Homo sapiens: one gene and its partners. The protein of the gene in region 4 interacts with the protein of the main gene of each other region in a pairwise test. Each region holds a gene or a part of one and is shown on either strand. Other genes may lie near its edges.

What was found.
Region 1: the proteins of LAT (region 4) and TNFRSF10D interact in binary tests that used the Homo sapiens proteins (3 or more experiments, as listed by UniProt).
Region 2: the proteins of LAT (region 4) and SLC71A2 interact in binary tests that used the Homo sapiens proteins (3 or more experiments, as listed by UniProt).
Region 3: the proteins of LAT (region 4) and JSRP1 interact in binary tests that used the Homo sapiens proteins (3 or more experiments, as listed by UniProt).

What each region holds. Positions count from the first base shown.
Region 1 is NC_000008.11:23,135,088-23,140,066, forward strand, and holds the end of TNFRSF10D (tumor necrosis factor receptor superfamily member 10D precursor), read right to left. Parts: intron 3,174-4,979; coding exon 3,101-3,173; intron 2,917-3,100; coding exon 2,783-2,916; 3' UTR 501-2,782; downstream 1-500. UniProt on the Homo sapiens protein: Receptor for the cytotoxic ligand TRAIL. Contains a truncated death domain and hence is not capable of inducing apoptosis but protects against TRAIL-mediated apoptosis. Reports are contradictory with regards to its ability to induce the NF-kappa-B pathway.
Region 2 is NC_000009.12:94,370,255-94,377,569, forward strand, and holds the start of SLC71A2 (hippocampus abundant transcript-like protein 1), read left to right. Parts: upstream 1-4,314; 5' UTR 4,315-4,565; coding exon 4,566-4,673; intron 4,674-7,315.
Region 3 is NC_000019.10:2,253,396-2,261,052, reverse strand, and holds the start of JSRP1 (junctional sarcoplasmic reticulum protein 1), read left to right. Parts: upstream 1-4,635; 5' UTR 4,636-4,670; intron 4,671-5,708; 5' UTR 5,709-5,738; coding exon 5,739-5,847; intron 5,848-6,570; coding exon 6,571-6,608; intron 6,609-6,751; coding exon 6,752-6,866; intron 6,867-7,259; coding exon 7,260-7,433; intron 7,434-7,657. UniProt on the Homo sapiens protein: Involved in skeletal muscle excitation/contraction coupling (EC), probably acting as a regulator of the voltage-sensitive calcium channel CACNA1S.
Region 4 is NC_000016.10:28,988,052-28,991,323, forward strand, and holds the end of LAT (linker for activation of T-cells family member 1), read left to right. Parts: intron 1-1,475; coding exon 1,476-1,538; intron 1,539-1,722; coding exon 1,723-1,788; intron 1,789-1,881; coding exon 1,882-1,961; 3' UTR 1,962-1,968; intron 1,969-2,137; 3' UTR 2,138-2,733; downstream 2,734-3,272. UniProt on the Homo sapiens protein: Required for TCR (T-cell antigen receptor)- and pre-TCR-mediated signaling, both in mature T-cells and during their development.

The DNA of each region.
Region 1 (4,979 bases), on a different chromosome or scaffold from region 4:
GGTTCCAAGTGAGGCCATGGGCAGTGCAGGCGGGAAGCAGGAGGTAGCATGGAGCAGCCGCAGCCCCACCTCCCCTCTAGGGAAGGCAGACAGCATGGGAGCACGCCTGGGCCTCCTGGGAGCTGTGGGCCAGAGGGAGAGCAGGTCCTCCAGCGCAAGGGGAGTGGGAAATGGCTCTCACAGGTGCCTGCAGGGCTGAGCAACCTGGGTCCACTGATGGGGATACAGGGAAGGGCTGCTGTCCCTCTCCCCAGAGGGAGGAGCAGACAGGAGAGAAACAGGGAGGAGGCGCGAATTCCAGTAGCCAAGAACCTGGTCCTTTAAAATCCAGGGAGTCATAGGCAGGAAACTCCCCCCACACCCCCACCGCCAGGCGGGCCAAGCCTGAAGGCAGAGAAGGGACAAGTAAGGAGGCCCAGCAGGAACGAAGCCCTGGCCTCCTGTCACTCAGAGCTGTGTCACAGCAGGAGAGGAGGATGGAAATAAACGAACACCACACCTTTTTAATATGAGGTTTCATATTTATTTTGGTCATAAACATATGAGTATTTCATATATAACCAGGTGTTATGTGCTATTTGGCCCGGGTATAAAGCAAAACCTAAACAAATCAACCAACGCCAAAAAACCCCAACAATTTCATGTTGTCAGGAAGCTTATGTTAAAGGAATAAGCTTAAACACTGATAAGGCTGGTAGTCTAGATGCATCTTCAAGGAAGGCCTCTGAGGAAGGGACAAAGGAGCTGGGACCGGACTGGCTCTCTCTGAGCTTTGAGACCAAGTCTCCTGCACAGAAGGCCCAGCAAAGGCAAAGACTAGGAGGCAGCAGCACCCTGTGTCATCCAGAAGTGCAGGGGACAAGGTGTGGGACGCCAGATGGAAGTGGGAGAGGATGGAAGTGCGAAGACCGGAAAGGCCATCCCCTCCTAAAACTCCATGGACACAACAATCTGAATGTGCGAACTTCAGGCAGTTCTAACTTTGTCCCAGCCAAACCAGTCCCGGAACAAAACACACAATGCCTTGAGATGGAAAAGACTGAAACCCCTAGAATGACTATATCCGTAATTTATCCTACCACGACTGGGCTACTGTGGAGAAGAGTTTGCTGGAAAGAAGCTAAAACGATTACTGAGGTTTTTAAATAAAATAATGGAACGTGACACAAGGACAAATGTGTCAGCCATTTTAGATCCTGTTGTCACAGTGTTTAAGAATTGATATCTCTGAGATGAGTCAGATGCTTACAGAGGGGCCAAGCTCCTCAAACAGGGAATCTGTACCCTAAAACGCAGCTCAGGAATCTCTGCCCTAAAAGGCATCCCAGGGACTCAGTTCACAGACCACCAGAAGCGAGAGGGGCCCATCCATGCCTGAGTCGGCAACCATTTCACACCATTCCCAAGCACCGTCCACTCTTCCCTCTTGATGCCATGGCAGATGCCGGGGCAGATAAACACCTGCTCTGCCCTGAGCCCAAATGAGGCTCAAGATTCACTAACGTTCAACTGTAATGGCGCTTGAAAGAGAAGCTCTTCGCAGTCTCGGATCTAACTTAATTCTCACTGTCCTCATCTGCTGTGGACAAGTCGGAAGATGCAGTCCCATGACTGTCCCAGCACGACAAACCAGACACATGGCTTCCCAAAGATACCAGGCTCTTCAAAATCCTGGGCATATGTAAACATCTACTTATAAATAAATAAATAAATATTTATTTATAAATAAATATGGCTATATACCTCTAAAATTAACAAGTAAGACAAGCTGCCCCTTGAGAAGCTGCCAGCCATCAAACCCTGGTCCAGTCTCAGGGCGCAGGAGGGAGAACTGGAATGCAGTAAGTGCCTCCCACAGAGGGAGGATTTCTCCCTCCGTCACTAGTTATATTTTTAGTCATTTTTGACTGCTGATTTGTATCCAGGCAACCCATGTAAACAGCCTAATAAGTGCATTTCCTAAAGTTTTTCCATGTTTACATCATTATACAAAAATCGGAAAAGAGATGTACAGCCTACAGTAGTAAGCAATATAAATGTTTCTCTAATTAAGGTGGGGGTAAGCCCCAATAATCCTATCTTAAAGCTCAAAACTCTAAGTCGAACCCTCGTAAGTCCATATGCTCATGACTTAGCATAGGGCTACGTCTTGATAATCTCATCATTAAGTCAAAAATATCCGAAACTGAAAATACAGGTAATAACAAGATAATCCCGTTCTAAAGTTAAAAAACTATAAGGCAAAGCATTGTGGCTGTGCGGCATCTGTAGTTAGATGTCATTAAATGCACACACCAGTAGAGATGGAGCTTGCAATATAAGAAGCAGAAAAAAAGACTTGTCTCATGATGAAGAACTGCAAAGAATGACATCCTAAAACCACTTTTTTTCTTTTTAAATTGAGATGGAGTTTCACTGTGTTGATGAGGCTGGTCTCAAACTCCCGAGCTCAAGCAATCCACCTGCCTCAGCCTATCAAAGTGCTGGGATTACAGGCATGAGCCACCGCATGTGGCCTAAAACGACCCTTAATACACAATCGTATAACTATGCAGCCAAGAATCTGATATAAATTTCTCCCGTTTGCTTATCACACGCAGTATTTCATAAAAATTACTCCAAGTGCGTTAACAAAGTTCTAGGACCATTGGTAAGCTGCCCCATATTGGATAGTAGAGTTTGTTGGGGCATGGGTCAAGTACTGGACTGTTTCTTCCAGGCTGCTTCCCTTTGTAGGAGAAAAGGTAAATGAGGGAAGCTCTGGTTTCCTGAAGAGATTCTTTCACAGGCAGGACGTAGCAGAGCCTGCCTCATCTTCTTCATAAAAGAGCTTTTCGGAGCCCACCAGTTGGTCCTGAATTGTTTCCTTTGCATGTCCTTCTTCCAGTGTTGCCGAGGCATCCAGCAAGGTGCTGACTGAGAAGAGAGAAGAGATTTAGGGTCTCAATGCTCCAAGGACGATCAGCACAGGATCGACATGGGGCCCCCTGCTTCCAGCAGTGAAACCTCCAGAAGAGCCCTCTCAGCTATAGGGACAGCAGTTAGGACACCGTCCCTATTCCCTGTCCTCCTGCTGCGTCTCAAGGCACAAAACACTTACTGTCAGCGGAGTCAGCGTCATTCACTGGAACCAGCAGCCTCCTCCTCTGACACCCTTCAGCTTCTGCCTGTTCCTGTAACACACAGTGGGGAATGCTCTGGTCAGAGTCAGGAGTCCTGCAGTCTAGTACTGACCCTGACCACTAGCCAGCAAGAGACCTGCAGCGCTTTCCCTCTTGGGTCTCCATGGAGATGGAGACAAACCTCTGGTCCTCCATAGCTCTTGGGCTCTGTGTGCTGGTGGCTCATTGAGACATAAGTGACATGCAGTAAATGCTCACTTTGTAAGTGTTCTGACCAACTTTGACTATAGGCCTGTGTAATTATCCCCTGATCAAGACATAGAAACTGCCACACCCCAGAAAGTCCCCTTCTGCCCCATCTAATCAACTCCCACCCACCCTCACAAGAAATGATCACTTCCTTCCAGAATTCTTACCAGCAGAGTCTCGGCAGACTATATATGAGAGCACCCAGGAAAACCTAACAAAATGATTTATCCCAAGACTGTAAATGATCTTTGATCATCAGTACTCTACCATATCAATAGCGTAATTAAATAAAATGGCAGTCTCTATGGAGGCTGGAAAGACATTTGGTAAAATTAAACAGCAATTCTGATTTTTTTCAAACCCTTTTAGAATAGTAAGCTGTGTTCTTGATGATGAGAATTTCTATATGAAACCAAAAGTGAATGCCATTGCTAAGAGTGACACTTTGGAGGCCTTCCCCAGAAATCAAATCAGGACCCAAACACCTGCCTTCCCTAAGCACAGCTGAATATTGTTCTGAAAGGTCTGGCCTAGGCAACAAGATGGAAAATTAAAATGAGGCAAGACTTTTGGAAGAGGGCAGACACAATAATCATTATTTTCAACGTCATTTAAAACCCCTAAGATGAAACTACAATATTGAAATAGAAATGTATGTCTGGAGGAATGTTAAAAACATAGCAAATGCAATAAATTAGCAAACAGAATTACAAGGTTATCCAACTCATAATGGATACAAAATACTAAACAGCCATAAGAAACAGGAATAATTTATTTGAAGAGGAACACAAATCACAACTCAGTTACAATAAAATACTTGACACCAAATGTTATCTCCTTTGATAAGGAAATACTGAATATTAATAAAATATTCAGTGTTTCTAGATTAATTTTTAATTTTAAAGCGAATTGATAAAACGGCAACTGAGGTTTTTCGGGAGGGAAGGATGGAGGAAATCTTTTAATTCTAAATTTTATCTGGGTAAAATAATACATTTTGAAAAAGTATGGAAGAGGTGTTTGCTCTTTTGGATGTTAAAAAACATTAGAAAGTTCCCATTGGAACATGCCTCAAAATGGTAAGAGCCATCTATGACAAACCCACAGCCAACATCATACTGAATGGGCCAAAGCTGGAAGCATTCCCCTTGAGAACTGGAACAAGGCAAGGATGCTCACGCTCACCACTCCCATTCAACATAGTACTGGAAGTCCTAGTCAGAGCACTCAGGCAAGAGAAAGAAAGAAAAGGCATCCAGATATGAAATGAAGAAGTGAAAACTCTTCATGGACGATATGATTCTATACCTTGGAAACCCTAAATACTCCACCAAAAGGCCCCTGGAACTAATAAACGACTTCAGCAAAATTTCAGGATACAAAATCAATGTATAAAAATCAGTAGCACCGGGCACCGTGGCTCACACCTGTAATCCCAGCACTTTGGGAGGCCGAGGCAGGCGGATCACGATGTCAAGAGTTCAAGACCAGCACGACCAACATGGTGAAACCCCGTCTCTACTAAAGAATACAAAAATTAACGGGGCGTAGCTGGGTACGGTGGCTCACGCCTGTAATCTCAGCACTTTGGGAGGCCAAGGAGGGCGG
Region 2 (7,315 bases), on a different chromosome or scaffold from region 4:
GTTTATCTTAACACATTGTTATAATTGCAATTACAAAGTAGTGCTCGGAACAAACAAAATTAAGTGAAGTGTGTTTTAAACATTTAGACAATTATCGTAAGACAGTTTGTTATCCTTTCACACAGGGAACAGTAGACGGGTGGAGAAACAGCAACAAAGATACCATGTGAAGGTATTGCTTTATACACCTTGGCTTGGATCTGGGCCATGCAGGTGCCAGCTCTGGATTTCCTTCCCAGCAGACAACTGCCAGTACAAGGAGACTCACAGACATTATTGAACAACCCAATTGCATCATACTTTAAAAAAGATTCAAATTATATATAAAAAGTGATGAATTCAATACCACTTCCCCCTTTCTGTTGATTACAAATTGACCACACAAGGGAATATTTAGGGTCTTGTGGCAGTAGATGCATAACTACCTATTTCTCTTGAAGTCCTGGTCTCAAGTGATCCTCCCACCTCGACCTCCCAAAGTGCTGGGATTACAGGCCTGAGCCACTGCACCTGGCCCATCCATTTGTCAAAATCCACAGAACAATACACTGCAGAGAGTTAACTTTATGCAAATTAATGTGGGATCTTAGGATAGAATGGCCAGCACGACAAATGAACTTAATTATATTACAAAGGTATGGCATAACCTCACCAAAGTGAGTGGGGAAAAAATAAATTGAGTAAATAAATAAAAGTTTGATTGATTACTCAATCAAAAAAGAATTGATTTGAGTAAATAAGAAAGAAATTGAATTGATTTGGAAAACTGTTTTGACTGGCTACTTTCAGGATAAAAACAAAAAGAACCGTACATAAACACTGTAGTTGGAAAACTTGCTTCCACAGAGTTAGAAATTCTGAAACTACATGTATTGTTAACACACACACACACACACACACACACACACACACACACACACACAAGTAGAGAGAGAGAGAGCACAGCACCCAGATCCATATCATTGCTGGGAGAATTAGTGGTGCTGCCCATAGACTCTACTCAGAAAGGACAACTGGAAGCTTGTGCGTGGTCTCTCGTGGACTCTGCTGCCTCTTACCTTTGCTATTTTCATCTGTATCCTTTCACTATAATAAACTGTAACTATGAGTAAAATAGCTTTTTGGGGTTCTTCTAGTGAATCATTAAACCAGAGGATAGTCTTGGGGATTAAAGACTCTCAGTTATTAGATACCCTATTTTAGCATTAAGTTTAACCCAATCTTAAAATCCAGCTTTAAGACCAGATGATTAATTTATTTAAAGCGAAAAATCTCAACAAAAATATTAAATAGAAATCAGCAAGGCTAGGCACGGTGGCTCACGCCTATAATTCCAGTACTTTGGGAGGCTGAGGTAGGAAGATTGCTTGAGCCCAGGAGTTGGAGAACAGGCTGGGCAACACAGTGAGACACTGTCTCTACCAAAAATTAAAAAGGTAGCCAGGCATGGTTTTATGCACCTGTGGTCCCAGCTACCCAGGAGGCTGAGGTGGGAGGATCACTTGAGCCCAGGAGGTCAAGGCTGCAGTGAGCTGTGATCGCGTCACTGAACTCCAGCCTAGGCGACAGAGCAAGACTCTGTATCAAAAAAAAAAAAAAAAAAAAGATCAGCAAATTGTTTGAATTTCTCCTCTTAGGAAAAAGAACTGTATTAGCATATGTTACTCTGATATAGCTGATATGGCAATATCAACCATCAAAGATATAATGGTATACTTATCTGGTATAATTTATAAGTTTGCCTCAGTAGAATCACAGCCTATTCTGTAGTTAAAAATATACACTGCTAGTATTATAGCAAACTTTAGTGGCTTTTGTGATAAAGAAAATAAACTTCAAAAAACTCCATTATTCCCTCTAGGATAACTTTATTGTAAGTCTATTTAAGAAAACAGTCCAGGCTGGGCATGGTGGCTCATGCCTGTAATCCCAGCACTTTGGGATGTTGAGGCAGGCGGATCACTTGAGGTCAGGAGTTGGAGACCAGCCCAGCCAACATGGTGAAACCCTGTCTCTACTAAAAATACAAAAATTGGCTGGGTGTGGTGGCAGGTGCCTGTAGTCCCAGCTACTCGGGAGGCTGAGGCACCACAATCGTTTGAACCGGAGAGGCAGAGGTTGCAGTGAGCTGAGATCGCGCCACTGTACTCCAGACTGGGCAACAGAGCAAGACTGTCTCAAAAGAAAACAAAAAAACAGTTTACAAACTTTTCTGTTTCATGGATACAGGAATCAGAAACTGATACCCAAGCTCATAAGTGGCATAAACATAATACTCAAACAGCATAACATAATACATATATTCCCTCTGTGTTTTGAAAACTATTTGTTAAAACAATCATTCAGAAAAGTAGACAAATCAGGCTGGGTGTAGTCGCTCACGCCTGTAATCCCAGCACTATGGGAGGTCGAGGCGGGTGGATCACCTGAGATCAGGAATTCGAGAACAGCCTGGCCAACATGGTGAACTTGTCTCTACTAAACATACAGAAGATAGCCAGGTCGTGGCATGCACCTGTAATCCCAGCTACTCGAGAGTCTGAGGCAGGAGAATTGCTTGAACCCAGGAGGCACAGGTTGCAGTGAGCCGAGATCGAGCCACTGATCTAGGCTGGGCGACAAAAGCGAAATTTCGTCTCAAAAAAAAAAAAAAAAAAAGAAAAAAGACCAGGCCGGCTCGGTGAGCCGAGGGGGGCGGATCACTTGAAGTCAGTAGTTCAAGACCAGCCCAGCCAACATGGTGAAACCCCGTCTCTACTAAAAATACAAAAATTAGCCGGGCATGGTGACGCGCACCTGTAATCCCAGCTACTCGGCAGGCTCAGGCAGGAGAGTCGCTTGAATGCGGGAGGTAGAGGTTGCAGTGAACCTAGATCACGCCACTGATCTAGGCTGGGTGACTGTAGCCTGGGTGACAGAGCAAGACTCTGTCTCAAATAAATAAATAAATAAATAAAAGTAAAGACTTCTGCAAAGTGTGTGTGTGTGTGTTTGGGGGTAGTGGGTGGGAAGCGAAAAAGAGGCTTTTTTTTTTTTTTTTTTTGGAGACGAAGTCTCACTCTTGTCACCCAGGGTGGAGTGCAGTGCACCATCTCGGCTCACTGCAACCTCCGCCTCCTGGGTTCAAGCGATTCTCTTCCCTCAGCCTCCCAAGTAGCTGGGATTACAGGCATCCGCCACCATGCCCGGCTAACTTCTGTATTTTTAGTAGAGACGGGGTTTCACCATGTTGGCCAGGCTGGTCTGGAACTCTTGACCTCAGGCGATCCGCCCACCTCTGCCTGCCAAAGTCCTGGGATTACAGGCGTGAGCCACCACGCCCAACCTGAAAAAATTCTTAAATGAAATGACTTTAATTCAATTAAAATTACTAATCCTGTTAATAGAAATAATTTTATTCTTTTTTCTATTGATGTTTGTAAAAAGATTTTTTTTTTTTTTTTGTGAGACAGAGCCTCACTCTGTCGCCCAGGATGGAGTGCAGTGACGCTATCTCGGCTCACTGCAACCTCCGGCTCCCAGGTTCAAGCTATTCTCCTGCCTCAGCCTCCCGAGTAGCTTGGATTACAGGCGTGCGCCACCAAGCCCGGCTAATTTTTTTGGTGTTTTTTGTTTTTGTTTTTGTTTTTTAGTAGAGACAGGGTTTCACCGCGTTGGCCAGGCTGGTCTCTAACTCCTGACCTCAGGTGAACCAGCCGCCTCGGCCTCCCAAAGTGCTGGGATTATAGGTGTGGGCCACCGCTCCAGGCCTGTAGGCTTTTTTATATTTCAGTATTAGGTGCATATCTTTCAAAATAAATAAACATAAGCCAGGCTTTTCCAACTGCGTCCTACACATTCTACAAGATATTAATCATGTGTCAAGAATAAAAAGTGTTGTGTTCAAGTACGTTTGGGAAACATTGCTAGTATATTATTTTCTTCTTAGAGAACCATAGAAAAACTTGAGAGGTTGGCGGGTTGGCGCAAACCAAGACCAAAACTGAACTGCAATCACTACCAAACCCCCACGAGTTTGCCCCTCCCCGCTTGCTAGCCTCAGTCCAGATTCTCCGGAAAAAGAAATCAGTCGTACGGGCTCTCGAAATGACGTACTTCCCGCGCGCCGCGAAGTCCTGATGCCAAGGGGCCAGTCGCGAGGTAAAGGAGGGGTCTCTGAAGTGGGCGTGGCGTCGCTGGAGGCTACTCAGGCGCGGGACTCGTTCTCGAGGCGGGAGCTGAGGTGCGGGGCGGGGCCTCCTGCCCGGCGCCGGCCTGTGGGGAGGCGGGGCGGGGCACAGTCTCTTAACCGTGCAGCCCGCCCCTGACGCCGCCGGTAACTGCGAGAGTCGGGGTCGGTGCGGTTTGATAAGTGGTCGGTTCCTGGAGCTGCGGTCTTCTGCTAGCCTGATCCGCAGCTTCAGCCTCCGCCGCCTCCTCAGCCCTCGGCGCCGCCGCTGGCGCCGCCGCCTGACCCGCAGGCCGCCGCGGGCCGCAGAGCCCATGAGGGCGCGGGCACCGCCGCCGCCTCCGCGGCGTCGCCGTCGTCCCGGAGCGCCCCGGGCTGGCGCGGGCATGGCCGCGGCATGAGCGTGGAGCCGCCGCCGGAGCTGGAGGAGAAGGCGGCGTCGGAGCCCGAGGCGGGAGCCATGCCGGAGAAGCGCGCGGGCGCGCAGGCCGCGGGGAGCACCTGGGTGAGCGCGGGCGCGGGGCCCGGCTGCCTGAATCCCGGGGAGGCTGGGTGGGGTCGCACCCAGGGCCCGCGAGCCCGCCGCTCCGGGCAGGGGCTTCGGCTCTTGGAAAGTCGGTCCTTTTCTGGGGGGGGAGGCGAATTCATCACGAATACAGGTTTTTCCTAGTGACTGCTCATCGCAGACAAAACTTTACAGGATTTGGTTATTGTTTCAAAAGGCGCTAGACATGGGACAGTGAATATAAGTAGTAATTTGGTTATTTCGGAGTTCTCCGTCCCTGTAACAGTTGATAACAGTTTTCCTGGCGCAGTTTCTCTCCAAGTCTACATGGAAAACAGGTAGGGAGCATTTGAATCAGACCGTCGACGGGGAAGTTGGCGGCAGATGCCGGGCAGCGCCTTGCTGCTCCTTCCGTGTTCTCCCGGCGTCGGAGGGGCGGTCCTAGCGATGGGGAGCAGAGTTTCCAGGGGCGTTGCTGGGGACCAGCCGAGGAGCAAGTTAGGCTGGCCTCTTTCTCCAGTTTTACTTTTGCTTGAGGTCGAGATGGCTTCTGACAATGATACAGAAGCAATTGAGCCCTGACTTAACTGGCCTGGTTTCGGCAGAACAGGCCTTGTCTGTGTCAGTGGTTTCATATGGTGCAATATTAAGCCTAGAGGGTTTGTCGTTTCTTCAAGGCCTAAGTTTAAAAAGGATTTTTTTTTTTTGGTCTTAGGACCTGAAATATAGAGAATGTTACAGTGAATAGAAACTGACACAATGGGAAAGTTTTTCCAAAGAAAAGTAGAAATTTTATGGAAATTAAATACATGTTTTTGGCTTTAGATTTTTAGCTTACATATCTGATTTTGTGTTTAGTTGAAGAATGCTAAGTGTTTACATGAACGTATTTGGGGATGTAAATCCCTATTAGTAGGTTGGGAGGGCAGCTGAAGCAGAAGGAGCAGTAGGTAGAACGGATCCGGCAGAGCTGGTTTTTAGTCCTGGTTTTGCCTGAACAGTGCGCACTCTGGACAGGGTATTGAAACAGCCTTGCCCCTCAGTGCCTCCTCTGTAAAATGAGGACTTAGTTGAAGTCCCCTCCCAGCCCAAGTGACTCCCTATTTTGAAAAGCATTTCAAAGTTAAGATCTCTGTAATATGAGAAGCTTATTTTGTCGAGGGAGAGAAATTCTGTATAATTGCTTGCTCTCATTTTGATTCGCGTTAAGTAGACTTGTCCTCTTCCTGCTTGCTACACAAAACTAAAGCACCAGTTCCTCCTCCTGTCTCATGAATTGATGGACAGTAATTACTAACCAGTGGCCCAGCTAGTAACCTGCGAGGTAGCTTCCTTCATCCCTTCCCATACTTAAAACAATCAGAAAGTCTAGCTAAGTTTATTAGATACAGATTTTAGGTTTTTATCCTCTCCTATGCATTCTTATGCTCAGAATTTCCTCAGCATTTTTGACCCAGACTTTGACTATCTCTTTCAAGACCCTTGCTCACCCCAGCGTCAGTCCACCTTGCACGTGGCTGAGTAGTGTGTTCTAGCATGTAAAGATGATCATTACTGCTGTCCTTAATTTTTTTCATTGGCTCCTTATGGCTTACAGAATAAAAAAATAAATTGGCAGGTTGAAGCATTATTAGTATAGTGATTAGACGAGCATGCTTGAAATCCCAGTTTCCACAGTTCGATAAGTTAACGTAACTCCTGATTAATAATGGCATTTACCTCAGAGGGTTGTGAGGGTTGCTGCAACTTGGCATCTAGTAAGCCCCTTAATACATACTAATGTTGTTAGTATTTTGTAATATTCTTTGCATGTATGATTGAATGATCACAATCTATAGGTGATCTGACCGTGATAAAAGTAGTTGTCTCCCATTTCCTAGTGTTGACAGGAACTAGACCCCAACCTAGAAATTAAAGTTGCTAAATTTGTGTGCTTAAGAGCAGAAACTTGCGAGGGATGTTTACTCAAAGAAACCTAGACTCAGTTTATTCCCCAGTTCTTTCTCCGTTGGATCCTGATGGTAACCTAATTTTGGGCACAGGTAGATTCCTGCCTGGTCTTTCCTCCTCTCTGAGAACGCATGGAGTTGATGTTAATTGTGATGAATACTGAGTTTTCTTGGTGTTTGCTGTAGATAGTGAGAAGGCTAGCATGAGCAGGTAGCAGTGTTTTTCTGAGTGTGTGGACGTTGGGAGAACAGTGAATGCTTTTAATCATATATGTTTGTGTCATATGCTAGTACCCCTGAATTATGTGTTTTTCCTGTTTGCAGTTTCTAATGTCACCTCCGGGTGCTGTGTCCTATAGCCCCTATATGAATTGATTTCATTTTAATGTGTTGGAATTTCCTTACAGCTTGGTTTCAGTGACACTCATGATTTCAGGTTCTTAGATGCTACTAGTAATCACAGGGAAGATTGTCCAGCTGATAACTTTTTTCTTTTTTGTTTTCTGTGTTTTTTTTTTTGAGATAGGGTCTTGCTGTCATCCAGGCTGCAATGGCCAGTCATGGCTCACTGCAGCCTTAAATTCTTGGGCTCAAGCAGTCCTCTCACCTCAGCCTCCTGAGTAGCTGGGACAACAGATATGTGCCACCATGCCTGGCTTTTTTTTTTTTTTTTTTTTAATTTATTTTTTGTAG
Region 3 (7,657 bases), on a different chromosome or scaffold from region 4:
CCCAGCACTTTGGGAGGCCGGGGCAGGTGGATCACTAGGTCAGGAGTTCAAGATCACCCTGGCCAACATGGTGAAACCCCATCTCTACTAAAGATACAAAAAATTAGCTGGGCATGGTGGTGCGCACCTGTAATCCCAGCTACTTGGGAGGCTGAGGCAGGAGAATTGCTTGTACCCAGGAGGCAGAGGTTGTAGTGAGCCGAGATTGCGCCATTGCACTCCAGCCTGGGCAACAGGGCTGGACTCCGTCTCAAAAAAAAAAAAGATAAAAAAAGAAAGTCCCACAGAGGCCCCGTGTCCAGGCTTTGCTTCTGGGAAAGCTGAGCCTTCCAGGAAAGGAATGCAAAGGGAGACACTATGAGAATAAGAAGGTGAAAATGCTGTTGAGGCTGGGCGCGGTGGCTCACGCCTGTGATCCCAGCACTTTGGGAGGCCAAGGCAGGAGGATTGCTTGAGGCCAAGGGTTTCAGACTACCCTCGCTAACATAGGGAGACCTGGTCTCTTAAAAAAAAAAAAAGCTATTTATTTTGACCAGAGAAATGCAAATCGAAACCACAATGAGATCATGCCGTTCACACCCACTAGGCTGGCAATAAAAACACAAACAAAGAAACTGGAAAATGACGAGTTGGACGTGGAGAAGTTGGAACGCTCCTGTATGGCTGCTGGGCAGGTAAAACAGTTCAGTCGCTTTGGAAGAGAGACTGGTGGCTCTTCAAAAAGTTAAGCATAGAGACAGGGCGTGGTGGCTCACACCTGTAATCCCAGCATTTCAGGAGGCCAGGGCCGGTGGATCACTTGAGCCCAGGAGTTCGAGACCAGCCTGGGCAACATGGTGAAACACCATCTCTACTAAAAATGCAAAAATTAGCAGCTGGGCGCAGTGGCTCACGCCTGTAATCTCAGCACTTTGGGAGGCCGAGGCAGGTGGATCACCTGAGGTCAGGAGTTTGAGACCAGCCTGGTCGACATGGCAAAACGCTGTCACTACTAAAAATACAAAAATTAGCTGGATGTGGTGGCAGGCACCTGTAATCGCAGCTACTTGGGAGGCTGGGGCAGGAGAATCACTTGAACCCGGGAGGCAGAGGTTGCAGAGAGCCGAGATTGTGCCACTGCACTCCAGTCTGGGTGACAAGAGCGAAACTCCATCTCAAAAAAAAAAAAAAATTAGCTGGGCATGGTGGCATATGCCTGTAATCCCAGCTCCTCAGGAGACTGAGGCAGGAGAATCGCTTGAGCCTGGGAGGCAGAGGTTGCAATGAGCAGAGATGGCCCCACTGCACTGGAGCCTGGGCCACAGAGTGAGACTCTGTCTCATAAATAGAAAATAAAAAATTAGCTGCGTGTGGTGTCAGGCACCTGTGGTCCCAGCTACTCAGGAGGCTGAGGTGGGATGACCACCTGAGCTGAAGAGGCTGAGGCTGTAGTGAGCCCTGATTGCGCCAACGCATGCCAGCCTGGGTGACGGAGATGAGAGCCTGTCTCAAAAAACAAACAAATGAAATCATATTTTGCAGCAACATGGATGGAGCTGGAGATCATCATCCTAAGTGAAATGACTCAGCAACCACCACCCCTGTCTTATTCCAGAACATTCTTGTCACCCTAAATGAAGCTCCATCCCCATCAGCCATCACTCCCCATCCCCTTCCCAGCCCCGGCACCCACAAATCCCCTTCCTGTCTCTGTGAATTGGCCTGTCCTGGACATTTCTTTTTTTTTTTTTTTTTTTTTTTGAGACGGAGTCTCGCTCTGTCGCCCGGGCTGGAGTGCAGTGGCGTGATCTCAGCTCACTGCAAGCTCCGCCTCCCGGGTTCACGCCATTCTCCTGCCTCAGCCTCCCAAGTAGCTGGGACTACAGGCGCCCGCCACCACGCCCGGCTGATTTTTTGTATTTTTAGTAGAGACGGGGTTTCACCGTGTTAGCCAGGATGGTCTCGATCTCCTGACCTCGTGATCCACCCACCTTGGCCTCCCAAAGTGCTGGGATTACAGGCATGAGCCACTGTACCCGGCCCTGTCCTGGACATTTCATAGAAATGGGATCACATACAGCATGGCCTTCTGTGTCTGGCACCTCTCACCGAGCGTGACATCCTTAAAGTGCATTCACGCCATGGCCGCAGTCAGAGCCTCGTTCCTGTTCACGGCTGTGTCGTACTTCACCGTGTGGAAGGGCCACGCTGTGTTGATCCGTGTATCTGAGGATGGAACGCTAGAGCTGCCTACACCATGTGGCTGCGGAGAATCGTGCTGCCCTGAACTTGGGTGTGCAAATATCTGAGTCCAAGCTTCGGATTCCTTTTCGTAGATACCTAGGAGTAGAGTTTCTGCATCTTATGGTCATTCTATTTTAGCTTTTTGAGGAACTGCCAAGCTGTAATATACTTTTAGGAGGGGCCAAGCACTGTGGCTCACGCCTGTAATCCCAACACTTCAGGAGGCCAGAGTGGGCAGATCGCCTGAGGTCAGGAGTTTGAGACCAGCCTGATTAACATGGTGAAACCCCATCTCTGCTAAAAATATGAAAATTAGCCAGGCGCAGTGGTGCATGCCTGTAATCCTAGGTCCTCGGGAGGCTGAGGCAGGAGAATCGCTTGAACCCAGGAGGCAGAGGTTGCAGTGAGCCGAGATCGCGCCATTGCACTCCAGCCTGGGTGACAGAGAGAGACTCCATCTCAACAACAACAAAAAAACTTTTAGGAAGAAAAAATAAATCTAGGTTACAAACAAGATGTTCAGCCCTTCGCTAATTATGCCAGCTTTATAAAAATAAATATGGAACTAATAATAAAATCACAAGTTACAAACAGCGGAAAGAACATGTCAAACTATTAAACAGTGTCTGTTTGGGGGCGGGAAGATGACAGGTGCTTTACAGTTTTTGCTTTCAGCTTCTCTTTGTTTCCTGTTTGTCTCTGCCTTGTGTCATACAGAAAAAAATGAGAGCCATTTCTTTTTTTTTTTCTTTTTGAGACAGAGTCTCGCTCTGTCGCCCAGGCTGGAGTGCAGTGGTGCCATCTCGGCTCACTGCAAACTCTGCCTCCCGGGTTCACGCCATTCTCCTGCCTCAGCCTCCCGAGTAGCTGGGACTACAGGCGCCCGCCACGACACTCAGCTAATTTTTTGTATTTTTAGTAGAGACGGGGTTTCACCGTGTTAGCCAGGAGGGTCTCAATCTCCTGACCTTGTGATCCACCTGCCTTGGCCTCCCAAAGTGCTGGGATTACAGGCGTGAGCCACCGCGCCCGGCCGAGAGCCGTTTCTAAAGCGGAGGGAGTGGGGACCAGGGAACCCCAGCCCTTGCTTTGCTGAAGGCGGGCTGGCCTTCTGGGTCTCTTGGTAGTTCCTGGGGAGGCCCTATTCACTCAGAATTATTATTATTATTTGAGACAGAGTCTCACTCTGTCGCCCAGGCTGGAGTGCAATGATGTGATCTCGGCTCACTGCAACCTCCACCTCCCGGGTTCAAGCAATTCTCCTGCCTCAGCCTCCCCAGTAGCTGGGATTACAGGCATCCACTATCACGCCTCACTAATTTTTGTATTTTTAATAGAGACAAGATTTCACCATGTTGGCCAGGCTGGTGTCAAACTCCCGACCTCAGGCGATCCGCCCGCCTCAGCCTCCCACAGTGCTGGGATTACAGGCGTGAGCCACCGCGCCCGGCCATTCACTCAGGATTTTTAACACACAGGCCTCACCACCAAAATCCACTTCCCCTCTTCCCTCAGGACTCCCAGAGTCACCATGCTTTGCAGGTAGGGCTCAAACATCTGCCTGCAGGCCTTAGAATGTGCCTTTGGGGGCTGAGAGACCCCGGGTCCTCTCCAGAGCAGAGGCGTCAGGTTTCTCTGCATGACGGTGTGGGAGCAGGCAGTTCCGAGTGTATGAGCCTGCCAGAGCCACAGAAACAAATGACCCCAAATACAGTGGCTTTAAACAGCAGGAATGAATGCATTGCAGGGGCTCCCGCCTGGGATCCCAGCACTTTGGGTGGCCAAGGCGAGCGGATCACATGGATTACTTGCGGTCAGGAGTTCGAGAGCAGCCTGGCCAACATAGGGAAACCCTGTCTCTACTGAAAAAAAAATACAAAAATTAGTCCGGGTGCAGTGGCTCACGCCTGTAATTCCAGCAATTTGGGAGGCCAAGGTGGGCGGATTCCGAGGTCAGGAGACCGAGACCATCCTGGCTAACACGGTGAAACCCCATCTCTACTAAAAATACAAAAAAAATTAGCCGGGCGCGGTGGCGGGCGCCTGTAGTCCCAGCTACTCGGGAGGCTGAGGCACGGGAATGGCGTGAACCCGGGAGGCGGAGCTTGCAGTGAGTGGAGATCGCGCCACCGCACTCCAGCCTGGGAGACAGAGCGAGACTCCGTCTCAAAAAAAATTGAAAACTTACCGGGTGTGATGGTGCGCGCCTGTAGTCCCAGCTGCAGGCGCTACGTCTCCCTGGGTGGCAGTGGCGAGTGCTGAGTAGGAGCAATGCCCTGCCCTGCTGCAATGGCAGGGAAGGGTGGGGGACTCCCCGGCTGTGACCTCACTCCAGCGGGCATGCTGATTGGCCCACCCGCGGTCTCTGGCCACCTGTTGCCGTCCATCACGGGGCCACCCTCCCCATCCTCCGTCCTGTCCACAAGGCTCAGCAAAGCGGCTGGCGGGTAAGCGAGGCTCGGGGGTAAGGAAGTGAGGCTGGGGGAATCCCGGGCAGAGGTGTGGGCTCCCGGGGTGTGAAGGGGTGTTGCAGAGGACTGTAAGGGTCCCCAATTCCTGGAGCTGCCCCCATGCACACCCAGGGGCCACACACCAGCCTCCCATGCTTCTTGGGCCCCTCCCCCACTGCCACGCAATAGGCCCCTTCCAGGTCTTGGAGCCCCAGGGCTGGGTGGTTTTTCAGCCTAGATACAGGGACACCCTAATCCCAGCAGCCAGAGGCCATGGGGACCCTGAAGAGTACAGCTTTGGGTCTGACTTGAAGCTCCTTGCGACCTCCAGCCAATGGCACTGTCTCTAGCCTCGGTTTCCTCATCTGTCCTATGGGAACAGAGTTAGTGGGACAAGGCAGGGTACTCTGTGTCAGGATCAGAAGACCCCCAACCACAACCGGGACCCTCCTCCCCTGCCCCGGCCTGTCACGACCAGAGCCAGGATGGTTCTGCTGCTGGGGCCTGAGCCTGTAGACTCACAGGGTCACGCAGCAGGATGTGGGTGCCCAGAATGGCAAGTCAGGGTGGCCCAGAGGGAGACCCCATGAGAGCAGAGGCCTGGGAGGGGCTGGGGCACCTGTTAGCCTGTCCCGCTGGCCTCAGGCACCAGATAAAAATAGTCCCTGGTCTCAGAGAACATGAGCTGACTCTGGGGCCAAGAGTTTCGGTTTGGGGTGCGTCTGGGACTCATTGCTGTGTTGTCCTGCAGGGGCTCCCGCCCTCTCTGGGCCAGAGCAGCCTGGGCTACTGTACTGATGGATACTGGACCCCAGTGAGGCTGGGCGGTAGGGAGGGGTCCCAGGGCAGGCATGCGGGGTCAGAGAGATGCCTGGAGTGGGCGCCGGGCCATGCCTGGCATGAGTATGAATTTGCCGAGTGAGGAGGGGTGGGAGGACGGGGCCTGTTAGTTGGTGTCCGCAGAACCTCCAGGTCAGGCCCAGGCCTGTGGCAGAGACTCAGTAAATGCAAGACCTTGTTCCCCACCCCTCCCAGCCTGGCCTGGGACCTGCTGCTGCTCCAGCCATGTCCATGACAACCAGAGCCTGGGAGGAGCTGGATGGCGGCCTGGGCAGCTGCCAGGCCCTGGAGGACCACTCTGCGCTGGCCGAGACCCAGGAGGACAGGGCTTCAGGTACCCTTGTGGCGCTGGCGGGAGGAAGCCCTTCCCTGATGGTCCCCTTGAGCCAGGAGGCCCATCTTCAGAGACTAGAGCTTCTTAGCCTCCCACACTGGACTGGCTTATAGTGTGCTCCCCATGTTCAACCCCTGGCCCTCATTTCTGCCTCAGGGGTCTGTAAGGAGCCCCCAAGGAAGACAGGTGCTGGGCCACACAGATCTAGGTTCGAATCCCACGTTGCCACTGAAATGCTGGGTGTCTTTGGGCAAAGCTGTCTCCAAGCCTGTCTGCTTTCTTTATATTTTTATATATTTTTATTATTATTTTTTGAGACAGAGCCTCATTCTGTCTTCCATGCTGGAGTACAGTGACATGATCATAAGTCACTGCAGCCTTGACCTCCCAGGCTCAAGTGATCCTCCTGCCTCAGCCTCCCAAGTAGCTGGGGCCACAGGTGCAGGCCACCATGCCTCGCTAATTTTTTTTTTTTTTTTTTTTTAGAGATGGGGTCTCACTATGTTGCCCAGGCTGGTCTCAAACTCCTGGGCTCAGGTGATCCTCCCACCTCAGTCTCCCCAAAATGCTGGATTCCAGGTGTGAACCACTGTGCTGGCCTCCACCTACTTTCTTATCTATAAGATGGGGTTAGTCACCCGCACGTCACCCAGCAGGGCCAGGGGAGAGGGTGGGATTGGCCTGGGGGTCCCCACAACCTTGACTCTGCCTGTGTTCCCACAGCGACACCCAGGCTGGCCGACTCCGGCAGCGTGCCCCACGTGAGTAGCTGGGACCCTCAGCCTTTAACCCAGGACGCCTGGGGAGTTGGGGACAAGCCGACCAAGGGAGGCAGGTGTCTAAAGCCCACGGGAAGGGTTTGGCACTGGAAGGAAACATGTGGAATGTCTCGTGATAACCACAGGACTCTCAGGTGGCTGAAGGCCCCAGTGTGGACACCAGGCCCAAGAAGATGGAAAAAGAGCCTGCCGCCAGGGGGACCCCAGGAACGGGGAAGGAGAGGCTGAAAGCCGGAGCGAGTGGGTTTGCAGGAGGCATGGGTGAGGTGTGGGGTGGGAACGGACTGGTGTGAGGCTCAGGTGCCGGAGCTGGGTCCTTGGATCTTGGAGGGTGGTGTCCTGGTTGAGTGGCGTCGAAGTGTGGCAGGCAGCGAGTCAACGGGCAGGGAGCCTCTACTAATGCGTAATAATACCAGCTATGCCACTCAGCTCCGGGAAGTTACCTTCCAGAAACTCTAGGCATCCCCGTGCAGCTGCGGGGCACCCGGGGCTGGGTTCACCTGCGCCCGGGGCCGCACAGGCAGGCAGAGAGAGCCGGGTTCAGGGCACAGGCCTGTCTCTTGTCCCCTGCGCCCGGGGAAGGGGGCGGCACAGAGCCAGTGACCACAGCGCAGCGCGCACTTGCCCCCGCAGGCCCTCGGAGCGTCCCCGCGCGCAAGAAGGCGCAGACCGCGCCGCCCCTGCAGCCGCCGCCGCCGCCCCCGGCCCTGAGCGAGGAGCTGCCCTGGGGAGACCTGTCGCTCAACAAGTGCCTGGTGCTCGCCTCGCTGGTGGCGCTGCTGGGCTCGGCTTTCCAGCTGTGCCGCGGTGAGCGCAGGCTCCCCAGAGGTGGGGCGAGGCTGGGGTCCACCTGTGCGCCTATTCCTCCAAGGAAAGGCGCTGTGCCGCCAGGGTGGGGTCTGGGAGCCTCCTCTCCAGGGCTGGGTCTTGCACGCCCCCAAAGTTGGTTTGTGCATCTCCCCTTAAGTGACGGGCCTTGCGCGCCCCTCTCACCCGGTGTGGACCTTTTGCGGGGCCCATTCCCCTCGCCG
Region 4 (3,272 bases):
ACTGCACTCCAGCCTGGGTGACAGAGTGAGACCTTGTGTTAAAAAAAAAAAAAAAAGATAAAATAGCTAAGATTCACCGAGGGCCTCCTGCATGCCTTGCTAAGAGTCTGACATGTGTTCACTCACTAATCTGACTGCCCTGGGGCTCCCGGGCCTGCCCGCGCCCTCCTGTGCTCCAGTTGTCCCTTTTGTGGGATACAGGGTTTATCTGTTTAACAGCACTGCTGTGTGACAGGCCCTATTTTACAGAGGAGAAAACTGAGGCACAGAGAGGTAAGGTCCCTTGGCTGAGGTTATGTGGTTGGTTAGTGCTGGAGCTGGGATTGAACCGGGGCGGTCTTCAAAAACAAACAAGAAACACATAAAAGAACCAAATAGGCCGGGCACGGTGGCTCACACCTGTAATCCCAGCACTTTGGGAGGCCAAGGTGGGGGGATCACCTGAGGTCAGGAGTTCGAGACTGACCTGGCCAACATGGCGAAACCCAGTCTCTACTAAAAATACCAAAATTAGCAGGGCGTGGTGGCGGGCACCTGTAATCCCAGCTACTCAGGAGGCTGAGGCAGGAGAATTGCTAGAACCGGGAGGCAGAGGTTGCAGTGGGCCAAGATCACCCCACTGCCCTCCAGCCCTCTAGGTGACAGAGGGAGACTCCATCTCAAAAATAAATAAATAAACAAAATAAAAGAACCAAATAACCAGGCGTGGTAGCTGATGCCTGTGATCCCAGCACTTTGGGAGGCTGAGGCAGGTGGGTCACTTGAACCCAGGAGTTCAAGACCAGCCTGGGCAGCATAGGGAGACCCTATCTCTACAAAAATTCCAAAATTTAGCCTGGCCTGGTAGGAGCTGAGGTGGGAAGATCATCTGAGCCCAGGAGGTCAAGGTTGCGGTGAGCCGAGATTGCACCACTGCACTCCAGCCTGGGTAACAGAGCGAGACCCTGTCTCAAGAAAAACAAAAACAAACAAAAAGCTCCCAAATAACATGGATGGTGACAGGCGCCATGAAGGGCTGACATGGGAGTGAGACATAGGCAGTGGCTGGCAGGGGGCAGGTGGGGATGGGGGTCGGGGGGAGGAGGTGCCTGCTGGGCCTAGTGTGTCATGTCCCCTCCACACACGCCACCAAACTCCCACTGCTCCGAGCCGCACTACATCCCTGCTCCCCAGCCTAGGGGCTGTGCTGGGGCCTGACCCTTTGTGAGCTCTCCTCAGTCCCAGTCAAGTGGACCTCCTCCCTCCCTCTCCACAGCCCTTGCCCTTGTCCAGGCCACCATCACCATCACCAACACCATCCTTGCCAGCCTGGAGTCCCCTCTCTTCATTCTGTGGGGCTAATGGGGGTGGCTGTGTGGGAAGCCTCTGGGGTCTACCGTTGGGGAGCTCTGCATGGCTGAGGTTGGGGGTTCTCTGGGAACCTGTGGCCAAGGGTCTCTGGTCACAGTGCCGAGGTGGGCCTGGCTTTTCCACAGTGGAGTCCATTGATGATTACGTGAACGTTCCGGAGAGCGGGGAGAGCGCAGAAGCGTCTCTGGGTGAGTGACCGGTGCTTGTCGGTGCCTGCCCCTGCACCCCGCTGCCCCACCATGCTCTCAGTGTGACCAGATCCCACCCTGGGGCTACCCACACCCTCTGCCCCCTCTGTCTGGGCGTCCCCTTGCTCTCTCGCCCTCCTGACCCCTTTGCGTGGCTGCCCCTCCTTCTGATCTGTCCCCACAGATGGCAGCCGGGAGTATGTGAATGTGTCCCAGGAACTGCATCCTGGAGCGGCTAAGACTGAGCCTGGTGTGTTCTGCGGGAGGGGCAGGAGCTGGGGTAGCTGCTTTGGGCTTGGGGGGATAGCTTGCAAGCTGGAGACCAACCTCCCCTCCCTTACAGCCGCCCTGAGTTCCCAGGAGGCAGAGGAAGTGGAGGAAGAGGGGGCTCCAGATTACGAGAATCTGCAGGAGCTGAACTGAGGGCCTGGTGAGAGGCCTGCCCTGTCCCCACCCTGCCCTGGGCCCACAGGCTCTACTCCTTCCCTCCAGGACCCCCTTGCCCAACCCTACCTCTGGCTTGTCCCTCTGTCTCTGGGTACCTGCTGAACCCCGTCAGCCTCCTGATCCGTATCCCTCCCTGCCCTGGTGTGTTTCAGTGGAGGCCGAGTCTGTCCTGGAACCAGGCTTGCCTGGGACGGCTGAGCTGGGCAGCTGGAAGTGGCTCTGGGGTCCTCACATGGCGTCCTGCCCTTGCTCCAGCCTGACAACAGCCTGAGAAATCCCCCCGTAACTTATTATCACTTTGGGGTTCGGCCTGTGTCCCCCGAACGCTCTGCACCTTCTGACGCAGCCTGAGAATGACCTGCCCTGGCCCCAGCCCTACTCTGTGTAATAGAATAAAGGCCTGCGTGTGTCTGTGTTGAGCGTGCGTCTGTGTGTGCCTGTGTGCGAGTCTGAGTCAGAGATTTGGAGATGTCTCTGTGTGTTTGTGTGTATCTGTGGGTCTCCATCCTCCATGGGGGCTCAGCCAGGTGCTGTGACACCCCCCTTCTGAATGAAGCCTTCTGACCTGGGCTGGCACTGCTGGGGGTGAGGACACATTGCCCCATGAGACAGTCCCAGAACACGGCAGCTGCTGGCTGTGACAATGGTTTCACCATCCTTAGACCAAGGGATGGGACCTGATGACCTGGGAGGACTCTCTTAGTTCTTACCTTTTGTGGTTCTCAATAAAACAGAACTTAAAAAATTGTCTAAGTAACTGAAAAAGTTAATATGCAGCACAGCACTTTTGAGACTTTGATGGGTAGGTGACTCACCGGCAGACTTTGCTGTGGGGTGGGTTCTGACTCAGTTCGCCTAGGACGTGGCCTGAGACTTTGCATTTCTGAGCCTCTCCTGTGTGATTCTGATGCTGCTGTTCTGTGAACCTCATCCTGAGGAGCAAGGGCGTGGTGAGCATCTATTGCCTTTACTTGTCCGGGATCCATTTCCCCTTATTTTGGGAATTTCACCTTGGCTTTCCTCTGCAATTCACTCCTTTCCCAATCTCATTCCATGTAGTTTTAGAGATTGTGTGTTTGTTTTTTCTTTTTCCTTTTTTTTTTTTTTCTTTTTTTGAGATGGGGTCTCCCTCTGTCGCCAGGCTGGAGTGCAGTGGCGTGATCTTGGCTCACTGCAACCTCCGCCTCCTGGGTTCAAACAATTCTCCTGCCTCAGCCTCCTGAGTAGCTGGGATTACAGGCCCCCACTACCACACCTGGCTAATTTTTGTATTTTTAGTAGAGATGG